Linked DNA regions of Homo sapiens: regions 1 and 2 are each linked to region 3. Evidence: fine-mapped expression QTL. A gene starts in region 3. Each other region holds a variant in brackets. All regions are shown on one strand. Distances are between the middles of the regions. Region 1 overlaps CCDC66 (coiled-coil domain containing 66). Region 2 overlaps TASOR (transcription activation suppressor). Region 3 holds the start of CCDC66 (coiled-coil domain containing 66).

Evidence for each region. PIP is the estimated chance that this variant, and not a neighbour inherited with it, causes the effect. A credible set is the group of variants that fine-mapping cannot tell apart.
Region 1: its variant is the best candidate, but not a certain one, in a credible set for the expression of CCDC66 in blood mononuclear cells (TOPMed, PIP 0.62).
Region 2: its variant is the best candidate, but not a certain one, in a credible set for the expression of CCDC66 in whole blood (INTERVAL, PIP 0.76).

What each region holds. Positions count from the first base shown.
Region 1 is chr3:56,591,844-56,596,203 of GRCh38, reverse strand. CCDC66 (coiled-coil domain containing 66) reads right to left here. Exons shown (of 18, transcript NM_001141947.3): 8 at 3,103-3,234; 9 at 2,463-2,713; 10 at 2,176-2,260. Among named protein-coding and RNA genes, the nearest start is that of CCDC66, 37 kb to the right of the region's middle. The variant T/C (reference allele first, on the strand shown) is at 2,177.
Region 2 is chr3:56,634,153-56,638,152 of GRCh38, reverse strand. All of the region lies in intron 17 of TASOR (transcription activation suppressor), which reads left to right. Among named protein-coding and RNA genes, the nearest start is that of TASOR, 47 kb to the left of the region's middle. The variant C/A (reference allele first, on the strand shown) is at 1,761.
Region 3 is chr3:56,555,128-56,559,487 of GRCh38, reverse strand. CCDC66 (coiled-coil domain containing 66) reads right to left here and starts at 2,313. Exons shown (of 18, transcript NM_001141947.3): 1 at 2,235-2,313; 2 at 578-642. The coding sequence starts at 2,245. RefSeq lists enhancers at 1,898-2,057, 1,526-2,197, 2,198-2,870.

The DNA of each region.
Region 1 (4,360 bases), 37 kb before region 3:
CTCATGCCTGTAATCCCAGCACTCTGGGAGGCTGAGGTTGGAGGACTGTTTGAGGCAAGGAGCTCGAAACCAGTCTGGTCAACATAGTGAGACTGTGTCTCTATAAAAGAAAAAAATTAACATTAGCCTGACATGGTGGCGCATGCTTGTAATATCAGCTACTGGGGAGGCTCGGGCAGCAGGATTGCTTGAGCCCAGGGGTATGAGGCTACAGTGAGCCATGATTATGCCACTGCATACCAGACTGCGCAGCAGAGCAAGACCCTGTCTCAAAAACAAGCAAACAAACAAACATACCAAAAGACAAAAACTAACAGATACTGCCAAGGAAGCGGAGAAAAGGGAATCCTTATACATTGTTAGTGGGAATGTAAATAAATACAGTCACTATGGAAAACAGTATGGAGACGTCTCAAAAAACTAAAAATGGAACTACCATATGATCCAGCATTCCCAGTACTGGATATTTATCGAAAGAACATGAAATCTGTATATCAAAAGGAAACCTGCACTCTTGTGCTAACTGTAGCACTATTTACAATCTGAGTGTCCATTGATGAACAAATAGATAAACAAAATGTGGTATATACACAATGGGATACTATTTGGCCATAAAGAAAGAATAGAATCTTGTCATTTACAGCAACACAGATGGGACTGGACGTCATTATGTTAAGTGAAATAAGCCAGGTATATAAAGATAAACATCACATGTTCCCACTCATATGTGGGAGCTAAAAAAGTAGGTCTCAACGAGCTAAAGAATGGAATGATAGGTATCAAAGGCTGGGAAGGGTGTGTGTGAGGGTGGTAGTGATCAAGAGAGGTAGGTTAATGGGTACAAACATATGGTTAGATGAAAGGAATAAGTTCTAATGTTTGATAGCAATAGTAAGGTGACTATGGTCAGCAACAATGTATTATATATTTCAAATTGGCTAGTAAACTTGAAATGTTCCCAACACAGAAATGATAAATACTCAAGGTGATAGATACCAGAATACTCTGGCTGAATCATTACGCATTCTACATATATAACAAAATATCATATGTATCCTATAAATATATAAAACATTATATATCAATTTTTAAAATCCATGAAGCATTAGTTTGGTGACTGTAGAAATAAGTTTTTATCAGCATACTGAAAGTATTATTTATATAAGTGAAGTGGAAATGTCAAATTTCCAATGCATTTCTCCCATCTCCCATTTGTACTGTCAAGTTCTACATGCCTTTTCTTCAACCCTAGGAGGGCTACTGGAGGAAATGGTATTAAAAAAAACTGAAGAAATAATCTCAGTGCTTAGCATAGTGCCTGTTAAGTAGCAGATGCTCTGCAAATGTCTGCTCACTGACTAAGCATAACATTAATGATGCCAAATTCATATATCAAAGGATTTGAAGAATTATGCAGATATTAAAGTCCCTTTAGCATTAGGCTAAAATCAGGACAGGAAGTTTTAATTTTAATTTTAGCCTCCTTTCTTATATTATGCATTAGATTTCTTTTTTTTTTTTGAGATGGAGTCTCACTCTGTCGCCCAGGCTGGAGTGCAGTAGCACAATCTCAGCTCACTGCAAGCTCTGCCTCCCAGGTTCATGCCATTCTCCCACCTCAGCCTCCCGAGTAGCTGGGGACTACAGGCGCCTGCCACCACGCCCAGCTAATTTTTTGTATTTTTAGTAGAGACGGGGTTTCACCATTCACAGGATGGTCTTGATCTCCTGACCTCGTGATCTGCCCACTCAGCCTCCCAAAGTGCTGGGATTACAGGCGTGAGCCACCGTGCCCGGCCATTATGCATTAGATTTCTTAGTCATAATTCTAGTTCAATCCCTATTCAAAGAATGAATTCTCATCTTAAACAGAACTCAGGAGAAATAAATTGATGAAAAAAAAAAAAACCAGTACTAACCTAAGACAACACAAATTCACATATACAACTTAATATATTAAAGACCTTCTGTACTGGAAGGCAGGTGGCTGTAGCATTTGATAAGCTAATTCTAATATTACAATGCCAGTTGTGGTAGGGATTGGATTCGTGACACAACTGGACAGGACCTATGCTGTAAAGTTTACATCAGAATTTAAATTTCCATTTACTTAGGTATATGTTCACCATGACTGTTACTTATTAAGGTAAAGAACAATGTTTAACAATGCAATACC[T/C]GATGCTCTAATTGTTTTTGTCGTCGTCTGTCTCGTTCCTCAATCTGAGCTGGGTCCAAGAGAGCAGTCATAGAACGGAGAAAGCTGGCAAGATACATACATTAGCTATTCAAAACCTCAAAAAGGTAGATTCAACAAGCTAAATCATTTTTGTTTGGGATAAATCTACTAATTATTTCTATTTCAAAGACAAATACCAAACCTGAAACCAATTAGACATAACAACAGTCTTACTAAAGCACACAGACTTTCTGAAAAGTCAATAAATACATAAGCATGAACTTACTTTGTTTTCTTACTGTTTGCCATAACCACATCCTTAATAGGTTTTGCTATATGCTCCTCCTCTGAAGGTTCAACCTGGCTTCCGGTTGTAGGTGTACAAACACTGCTGACATCAGCCAGCTCCTGAGTGTCAGGAGAGACACAGAAGTACTCAGGTTGTTTGTGTGTTGACTGAGAGAACAGCTGAGATTGAGAACCAGGATAACTCTTTAATGAATCAAAGTGCATTGCCCATCTGTCATGTTCCTCACCCTAATGATGACAAATAAGAATTGCTAAGAATTTTTCCAATTATTCTCATATATAATTCTAAATGACAACCAAAGATGATTTCTAAAAGTCACCTTAGAGCAGAATAAGCATCATAAAAATTAACAAGACTGTACTGTTTAGAGTCCTTATACATATAGATCACTAGCTTTGAAAATTTGAGAAATTCAAAGAATTAGGAAATTTCTAAAAAGTTGTAAGAAGCTATGCAACATCACATAATGCATTCAATGAAACAGGTTCACATGGGCAAATGTGGAATAAATGGAATATTCTGGTCTTGTCAAGAGTTTCAGAATACTTCTAGTTTTAATTGATTAAAGACTTTGATTTTATTTTTTCTTTTATAGCCACAAAACCTCATAAGTTACCTTTGAATATATAATTTTTTCCTCTATTTTTCTTTGACGGTCATCTTCTATTTGCTTATTCAACTCTTCAATCCATTTTCTTTGCAGTTCTTGTTTCACAGCACTGAAAGGGTGCTCCAGCAGTACTGTTTCCTAAACAACAGCCATAAAAGCCATCTAAAGTTCAGTTCTCTTTTTCTAATCACTTAATATGTGCAAATCTTGCCAAAGTAACATACAGATTTAATCCACTGAGGCATTTATCTGTAAGAGGAGCAATAACTTCAAACGAATTTGAATTCAAAGAATTAAGTAGATATATTCTGATTCTCAGAATCATATTTTAAATATACTAGATCAGAGATATATAATAAGATATCTAAGTGTAAGGGAAGGGAATTTTCTAATGAAAAACAGAAAATTCTTTCTCCAAAACAATTAAAAGACTTTCAAAATTCAGCTGGATGCAGCAGCTCATGACTATAATCCCAGCATGTTGGGAGGCTGACATGGGCAGATCACTTGAGCCCAGGAGTTCAAGGCCAGCCCCTGGCCAACATGGCAAAATCTCATCTCTACTGAAAAAAAAAAAAAAAATTAGCCAGCTGTGGTGGTGCATGTCTGTAATCCCAGCTACTTGAGAGGCTGAGACACAAATCACTTGAACCCGGGAGGTGGAGGTTGTAGTGAGCTGAAATCATGCCACTGCACTCCAGCATGGGCAACAGAGTGAGACCCTGTCTCAAAAATATTGTTTTTCAAAATTCTAAGTCTCTTTTAGAGGCTGAAAGAGTTATTAATTTAAAACAGATGAATATTGTTTTACATTTGGCTTTGGAATACAACATTTGGAATATTGTCTTTGGACCAAGAACAAGGAGAATATAGAAAGATGTGTGAGAGCAAGAGACTTTCCCTATTGAATCATGTCTCTCTCTAGGAGAACCTCTGTCTTCTAGGTTTCTGCTACTACAGCTCTATCACAGCCTATGATGTTTCAATAACAAAAATATACTGTGTCCAGAACGAGTCTTTGAATCTTAAGGAAAAAGTAAAAAATGAAAACAGTAGCATAAAAGTTTGCTGCCACTTTAATTGATGAGTTTAGGATACTCTTTTAAAAAAGGAAAAAAATATATTCTACTCAAATTCTTCTGAAATGCAACAGGCAAACAACAAAACATTTCATTACATGAAATAACTACAAGACATAATTAAGAAAAACTGTTTGACAGAATCCTACAATGACGATATACCTCACAATGTTACTTTCTTCCCT
Region 2 (4,000 bases), 79 kb before region 3:
CCTCAGGTGATCCACCTGCTTCAGCCTCCCAAAGTGCTGGGATTACAGGCTTGAGCCCCCAAACCTGGGTTTCTTCTTTTTTAAATTTTTAAAAAATAGCCAAGAAGGGTAAGCCATTTATATTTTAGGTATACTATTCATAGTCTTTTAACCTAGTTCTTCTGATTGTAAAACTAATTTCTGCAGGTAGATTAAATAAGATTAAGAAACTTGGATTTCAGAAACAGTTGCAGATATTATTGATTAGCTAGTTGGCAGTGGGTACCTAGGAGATAATCTTTGTCTGATCTTGGTGGATTCAACTTCTCTGCAGATGGTCATAGGCATTGTTTTCTTGTTTACAGTTTGGTGGTGATCTTTTTTATATTTTCCTTCAGTTTTGTTGTATCTGACTCTTTTCAGAAATTAAAGTGTTGTTTTTTTATTTGTAAGAAATGTGAAATGACTACATCTTTGTAGTTATTTATTTCCTTTGGGAGTTCCCCTCCCCCGCTAATTAAAGTTACTAGTTTCCTTGAAGAAAATCTTCACCATCTCCTTCTAGGAAAATGTGGTTAAAAAAAAAAAGAAACCATGAACAACAGATATATAACATAGAGGAAAGTTCACAAATCTTTTTTTTTTTCCCCTCTGATACAGAATCTCTCTCTGTCACCCAGGCTGGAGTGCAATGGCATGATCTTGGTTCACTGCAACCTCTGCCTCCTGGGTTAAGCGATTCTCCTGCCTCAGCCTCCCAAGTAGCTGGGATTACAGGCATGTGCCACCGCACCCGGCTGATTTTTGTAGTTTTAGTAGAGACAGGGTTTCACCTTGTCGGCCAGGCTAGTCTCGAACTCCTGACCTCAAGTGAGCCACTGAACCTGGCCACAGATCTTTATTGTACAGCTTTTTGAAATTTTACATATGTACATGACCATCACCCAAATCAAGATGTAGAACGTTTCTAGCATCCCAGAAGATTTTCTTCCACATTCTCCTAGTTAGTACTCTCCTTGTTCCCAAGTAAGTGCTAATCTGATTAGTTTTGCCTGTTGTTGAACTTAGGATAAATAGAGCCTACTCATGTCGTCTCTCGTGTTTGGTACTTTCATGCAATATCGTGTCAGGGAGTCCATGTTTTGCATCTATCAGTAATTCTTTTCTGATTTCGGGGTTTTACCATGTTGGCCAGGATGGTCTCAATCTCTTGACCTCGTGATCTGCCCACCTTGGCCTCCCAAAGTGTTGGGATTACAGGTGTGAGCCACTGTGCCCGGCTAGTAGTTATCTTTCTTATGCTTCAGAATGTTCCATCAGCACCTGCATTCCTCTTATTTGGAAATACCATCTTTATATTTTGTAAGCTAAAGTGTAGACATCTGAATGATGGTGCCTTTAGAGAACTGACTACTCCCCTTTCACTTAAAAGTTAAAATACTGCAATTATTTAATGGCAATAAGTTTTTTTTTAAAAAAGCACGGTGTCTCATGTTTGTAATCCCAGCACTTTGGGAGGCCAAGGTGTGCGGATCAGGAGGTCAAGACATCGAGACCATCCTGGCCAACATGGTAAAACCCTGTCTACTAAAAATAAAAAAATTAGCTGAGCATGGTGGCTTGAGCCTGTAGTCGCAGCTACTCGGGAGGCTGAGGCAGGAGAATTGTTTGAACCTGGGAGGTGGAGGTTGCAGTGAGCCGAGATCTCACCACTGCACTCCAGCCTGGTGGCAGAGCGAGTCTCTGTCTCAACAACAACAACAACAACACCACCACCACCA[C/A]CAACAACAAAAGCTTTATTATGGATTGACATGTATGTGTGTTTTCAATCACTTATAGATGAAGATATTTTCAAAATAATTAAGTTTTGTTTTTTTTTTCTATTTTTTTTTGCAACAGAATCTTGCTCTGTTGCCCAGGCAGGCTGGAGTGCAGTGGTGCAATCTTGGCTCACTGCAGCCTCTGCTTCCTGAGTAGCTGAGATTACAGGTGCTCGCCACCACGCCTGGCTAATTTTTGTATTTTTTTTTTTAGTAGAGACGAGGTTTCACCATGTTGGCCAGGCTGGTCTCGAACTCCTGACCTCAGGTGATCTGCCTGCCTTGGCCTCCCAAAGTGCTGGGATTACAGGCATGAGCCACTGTGCCTGAGCAGTTAAGTTCTTAATAAAATCATACAGGGAAATTTGTGCAAAATAAAATTAGGTTGTGATTATTTATATTTTATAAAGGGATCTATTTGGTTTAGAGGTTTTTAATTATGGAAAATTCTCCATGTGGATTTAATTTATATTTCAGGTTAAAAATATTCCCTTTATTTATAACCCTTGAGGAGTAAACTTACTGGTTGTTGTTTAGCTATACATTTTGGGAGCCACTGTTGCATTTAAAGTAATAAATAGCTGGGTGTGGTGGTATGTACCTGTAATCCCATCTACTTGGAAGACTGAGGCAGGAGGAATTGAGGCCAGAAATTCAGGGCCAGTCTGGGAAACATAGTGAGGCCCCATGTCTAATAAATAATTCAGAATTTTTTAAATTAAGGTAGTTCTTCGCAACCCATATGTTTTATGAGATGCAATTCAATTTTTTTTCTTTGAATATATCAGATATTTGACATGATACGTAATTCAAGAAGTCCAAAAATACTTAAGAAAGTAATACTGCCCCAGCCCGGAACACTTAGATTCTTCCCCATATATTAGCCATGGTTACCAATTTCTCGTGTATCCTTCCAGACACTTTATGTGTACTAAAGCACATTTTAATGTTGGAGATTTAAGATACTCAGGATATTTAGTACTCCTAATTATCTTATGAAACTTGGATTTTCTGGTTTATCAATTTCATACAGTTCTAATTCTTATCCTGGCACGTTGGATATTTTGTTCCCCTCTCACCTCCGCCTACAGACCCGCCTTGGGTCTTTTCACTGTGCTGACAAATTGCCTTTGCAATAGTTAATGAGTGTACTGGTTCATGATAACCACCAGGATTGGTAGAGAATGTCATAAGCTCGACTCCTAGTGAGGCTATTTAAACCTTTAGAAAAGTGTGATGAGTGTGAGCAAAATCTTCACTGTAAGTTTGAAAACTACCTGTACCTGGACTTTCTGATTTAGAGGCACCATTTCCTATACTACAGCAGCAATTTGTTAGGGAATGTTGGCCAAGGCTTAAAGAAAAACAGTAATTTTTTAGCGGGTAAAATTGTGTATACGTCTTCTAAGCAAAGATCATGAGTTTTTGTCCTTTCCTAAAATATAACACTAAAATTGAAGTTAAATATATTTTTCCCCTTGTTGCTTAAAAATGGAATTAGAGTTCCCTTTTTCAAATGTAGTTTCAAAAACATACTGTGTTTGAATTTAGGATTTTTTTGGGGAAAGTATGATCTTTTGGATTGAGCTGTTTGTCAAGAGTGAAAGGTTTTAATCTCATTAGTATCAGCTAACCTTAGTATCAGCTAACATCTGTATCTCAAATGAGGTATAGCTATCTTTTCTTTTAGAATTATTTCCAAACAAAAGGAAAATATTTATGAAAGGACTGTCAAAAATGTGCAGCTGTGAAATATGTTCTTCTCTTGTCTTATTATTGTTCCTTTTATTTCCTGATAAAATGAAGTCCCTGACATTACAGGAAATCTACTTAGCAACCTCGTAAGTGAGAACAAGTCTGAAAGCAGATAAAATTAATTATCCTAGATCCTAGATGCAACTTTTAACTTGGCAGTTATTCCCACAGCATTTCTGTTTGGTATTCTTACAATTGCCTTACACTCAGAATTCTTACTAAGGGGCCATTACCATAGTAGATATTACTTGGCAAATAATAAATACAGGGATTGAGCAAGCTGATGTAATTGACTGTCTTGATTTAAAATGTGTATTAAACTTAGATCTACAGAATGGTAGGGAGGCAGAAACAAGCAAATGACTTAATTTGTATTGATGCCAAATTGGTGCTTGCTTGAGCGCTTCAAAATAGCAGAGTTGTTAACACTAGCTACAACTCTAAGG
Region 3 (4,360 bases):
GTTATAAGATTTTAAGCTAGCAACATTATCCTCGAAAGCATAAACTTTAGATCTTGACTGAGTATTTTTTTCTAATCCAGTTCAAGGATTTACTTCTATTTTATTTTTGTTTTTTATCTTTCCAAGGTAAAACTATAAACAGAAAAAAAAATGCGAAGGAGAAGGTACCAAAGTACACTGAGTTTAAAAACGAATACTAAAAGTGACTTTAGCATTTTACGGTGGTCTTACTATAAACTTTTCTCAAATGATACATTCTTTACATGCAAAGAACATAATTACATAAATTTTACTTGTATTATTCATCAGGCAATGAGGATATTTGCTATATGGATATAATGAACACGCAATATACTGGAACATTAAATGTTATGAGTCTGAATACTGACAGTAGTAAGCAGTGTTGTAATCTGATTTTATTTGGCTAGAAGGAAATCTGCAGAAGTTTGAGGAAACAGCTTTTTCTAAAATATCATTTAAATATCACTCTATTACAAGCAAAAAGTCTGTTGAACTAATATAAATTTTATGTATGAATTTAAAAGTTAACATTTCAGATTTCTGTAACACAACATACCATATGGAGACAATATTAGCTTGGTTTTTCCATCCAGTAATTCAGTTTCAAGCTTTAAACCATCTCTGTAATAAAAAAAGAAAGTTGTCTCTCATTTTTAACAAACCGCAACATTTTAAATAACCAGAAATGTTCATTTGAACCTGACAATAAATCCATTATTTTGAATTTATGCAGGAATCTTGTACACATCGAACCAGTGTTTTAATTAAAAACGTTTGCAATCCAAGATAAAACCCACAACTACAGGGGGAAAATTCTTGAAACTCTTCAATACTACAAGCATTGTTATCATTAACCTGAAATCTCATTTTGTTATTGGTAAACTATAAATTAAGTTATCATACCACCATTTTTTAATAATGCTGTTACCAAAACTCCTCACATAAGTTAAAGGAACAAGATATATTTAACCGCCATTCATTAGTTTCATAATGAACTCATGACTAAAACATTCTATGGAGTGCTGGAGCATCGATATGACTACTAACAATGCCATCAAGGTTAGTAACTGCTTGAGCAAAGAGTACCACTTTCAATATTTCAAATAATACATAGTGATATTTAGTATGGTGCTTTATACGTGCATATCAGAAGCAAAGGCATAAAGTAACAGTAGCCACTGCCAACAAAACTTGAACGTCTGTTAAGGTCCTAAAACTCCACTGAGAACAAAAATGGCAGCCCATACATACAGTCCATAATTCAGAGAGAGAAAATTAAATCCAGCAAGCCAGTCAAGGGAGAGAGAGGCTGGGAAAGGTCTGATTAGGAATGCGAAATTTGCGGTGTTGCTCAGGTAGGGGAAATCAAATTACCTCACCTTAACTATTAAAGGTAAAACACTGGAAAGAATAGGTTTTACGGCTTTCCTTATTGTAGGGTTATGAACAGTTCGTGTTTATGTTGGTGAAACGTCACCAAGAAAGAAAAGAGCTTCAATGGTAAAGTACCTTCAATGACGCACTGCACTGTAATCTCCTTAAGGGACACACTATCTTATTTATTTCCATATCCCCAGATTCTAAAACATAATAACATTTGCTGAACGATGTGTAGTTAGGTCTGAGTTTGGTGGCTTCTCATCTTCTCAAAATATCAAACTTGCGAGTGATGAAGACCATGCACCAGCCCTTTTTATTTATTCACCCCTACTTAAGGAGCGCCTACTAGGTGTTAGGCACTGGTACTACATCGATTTCTTGAGAAGCCTGGTTCCCCGCCTCGTGGGCCTAAAACGAATTTGGGCGTTTCAACATTCTGCAAGACTCCAAAAACAAGGTGGCGAAGAACCCGGGGCATGGGCCAGGAGTCCTCCCCAGGAGCCGCCACGCTTCCTCTAACTGTCTCGTCATTTCTCTCCTTTCCTCCTCACCTCTCTTCCCTCCTCATCCTGAGGTAAATAAGGGACCGAAAGGGGATCACTGGCAGTTTTAATGCTAGTCATTAAGTGAAAACGTAAGGTCTGTGGAGTCGCTAAGGGCCGACCCATCTGCCTCGATCTTCTACCCGAGAACTGGGCTCTGCCCCTCTCGGCGGCGCAGGTTGGGAACGTTCTCCAGTAAAGACTCCAAGGGACAACCCAGACACACATGCCTCCCTCTCCGCTGACGACCACCTTGCTTACCCCAGCTTACCCCAGCTTACCCCTGCTTACCCCAAGTTCATGGCCTGACCTCGCACTCTCTCCACAGAACGCTCAAGCCCCTTGTGTACGTCGGTTGCCGCCGCCGCTCAGCAAGCGCTACGCCAATTGGATATAGGGGTGCCGGCGAGCTGAGCAAGTGGACCAATCAGGGTGGGGCATGCTGGCGGGTGCGCTGAGCTGGGCCGGGGCTCCCGCGGGGACGGTTGCGTATGCCGTTTGTTCCCCTTTTGTGCCCCGTTTGTGCCGTTTGTTCCCCTACGCACAGCGGAATTTGGCCTGACCCGGCTTATGAGTCTAAAGCTTCGGTGGCGGAGACCTGCGCTTCTCGCAATTGTAGCCTTCCAAAGCGCGTACACAGACACACACACACACACACACACACACACACACACACACACACACACACACACACACACACACCTTTTTGGGGTCACCATTTGCAAGTAAGTTACAGACATTGTAACACTTAACCCTTTAACATTGCAGACATTGTAACACTTAACCCTTTAACATTGCAGCATGTATCTCCTAAGAATAGATGTTCTGCTACATAACCGCAGTACAATTATTATACCTAAGATCATTAATTTCATAATAATTCTCTTCCCGATTTAATTTCCCCCACTTGTCCTAAGAATATCTTATAGGCATTTTATTTAGAAAGCAAGAGCCAATCGCGCCACTGCATTCCAGCAGCTTGGGCGACAGAGTGAGACTCCGTCTCAAAAAAAAAAAAAAAAAATGCAAGAGCCGATCAAGGATCACACATTACATTTGGTTGTTAAGTATCTTTGCACACACTCTTTCCAGACAAAAACAATGAAAGGTATTAATTATTAAATGCCTGACAAACCTTTACTTTTTTATTTTTTATTGTTGTAATATGTGTGTTAAAATTTGCTATTTTTAGCCATTTTCAAGTGACAATTCCATGATACAATGTTGTGGAATACGCCAGTATATTTTTCCAAAAGCTTTTTAGTACCCCCAAATAAAAATTCTGTACCCATTAAGCAACAACTTCCCATTTTCCTCTCCCCTCAATCCTAAGAAACCTCTAATCTTATTTCTGTCTCTAGGAATTTGCCTATTATAGATACTTCATGTCATAAAAGTGGAATCATACAATATTTGTCCTTTTGTGTCTTCTCTCAAGTAACATAATGTATTCAAGGTGCATCCATGTTGTAGGATGTATCAGAGCTTCATATCTGTTTATGATTGAATAGTATTCCATTCTATGTATATATATACCACAATTCGTTTACTCATTCATCCATTAATAGACATTTGGGTTGTTTCCATCTTTTAGTTATTGTGAATAATGCTGTAGTGAACACTGATGTACAAGTATCTGTTTGAATCCCTATTTTCAATTTTCTTGGTATACACCTAAGAGTGGAATTACTGGGTCACATGGTAATTCTATGGTTAACTTTTCGAGAAACTGCCAAACTGTTTTCATAACAGTTGCAGCATCTTACATTTCTGCCAGCAATGTATATGAGGTTCTAATTTCTTCACCCCAACACTTGCTTTTTCTTTTTCTTTTCTTTCTTTTTTTTTTTTTTTTAGAGACAGGGTTTTGCTCTGTCACCCAGGCCGCCTACATTGGTACGAACATAACACTGTAACCTCGAACTCCTGGTCTTAAATGATCCTCCTGTCTCAGCCTCCCAAGTAGCTAGGGCTACAGGCATGCACCACTACGCCTGGTTAATTTTTAAAAAAATTTTTGTAGAGACAGAGTCTGTTTACGTTGCCCAGGCTGGTCTCAAACTCCTGGCCTCAAGTAGTCCTCCCACCTCAGACTCCCAAAGTGCTGGGATTATAGGCGTGAGCCTGTAGCCAGAATGATTTCTAAAATGTGAATCTGCTTAATTCACTCTGCTTCTTAAAATCTCTCAATATAGGAGAACGTCCTTAACTTGATAAGCAATATCTACAAAAAATCTCCTAGAGACCGGGTGTGGTGGCTTATGCCTGTAATTGCAGCACTTTGGAAGGCCAAGGCAGGAGGATTGCTTGAGTGTAGGAGTTCGAGACCAGCCTGGGCAACATGGTGAGACTCTATCTCTATTTTTTAAAAAAATCCTGTAGAGCCCAATATCACACTTAACAGTGAAAAAGTGCAA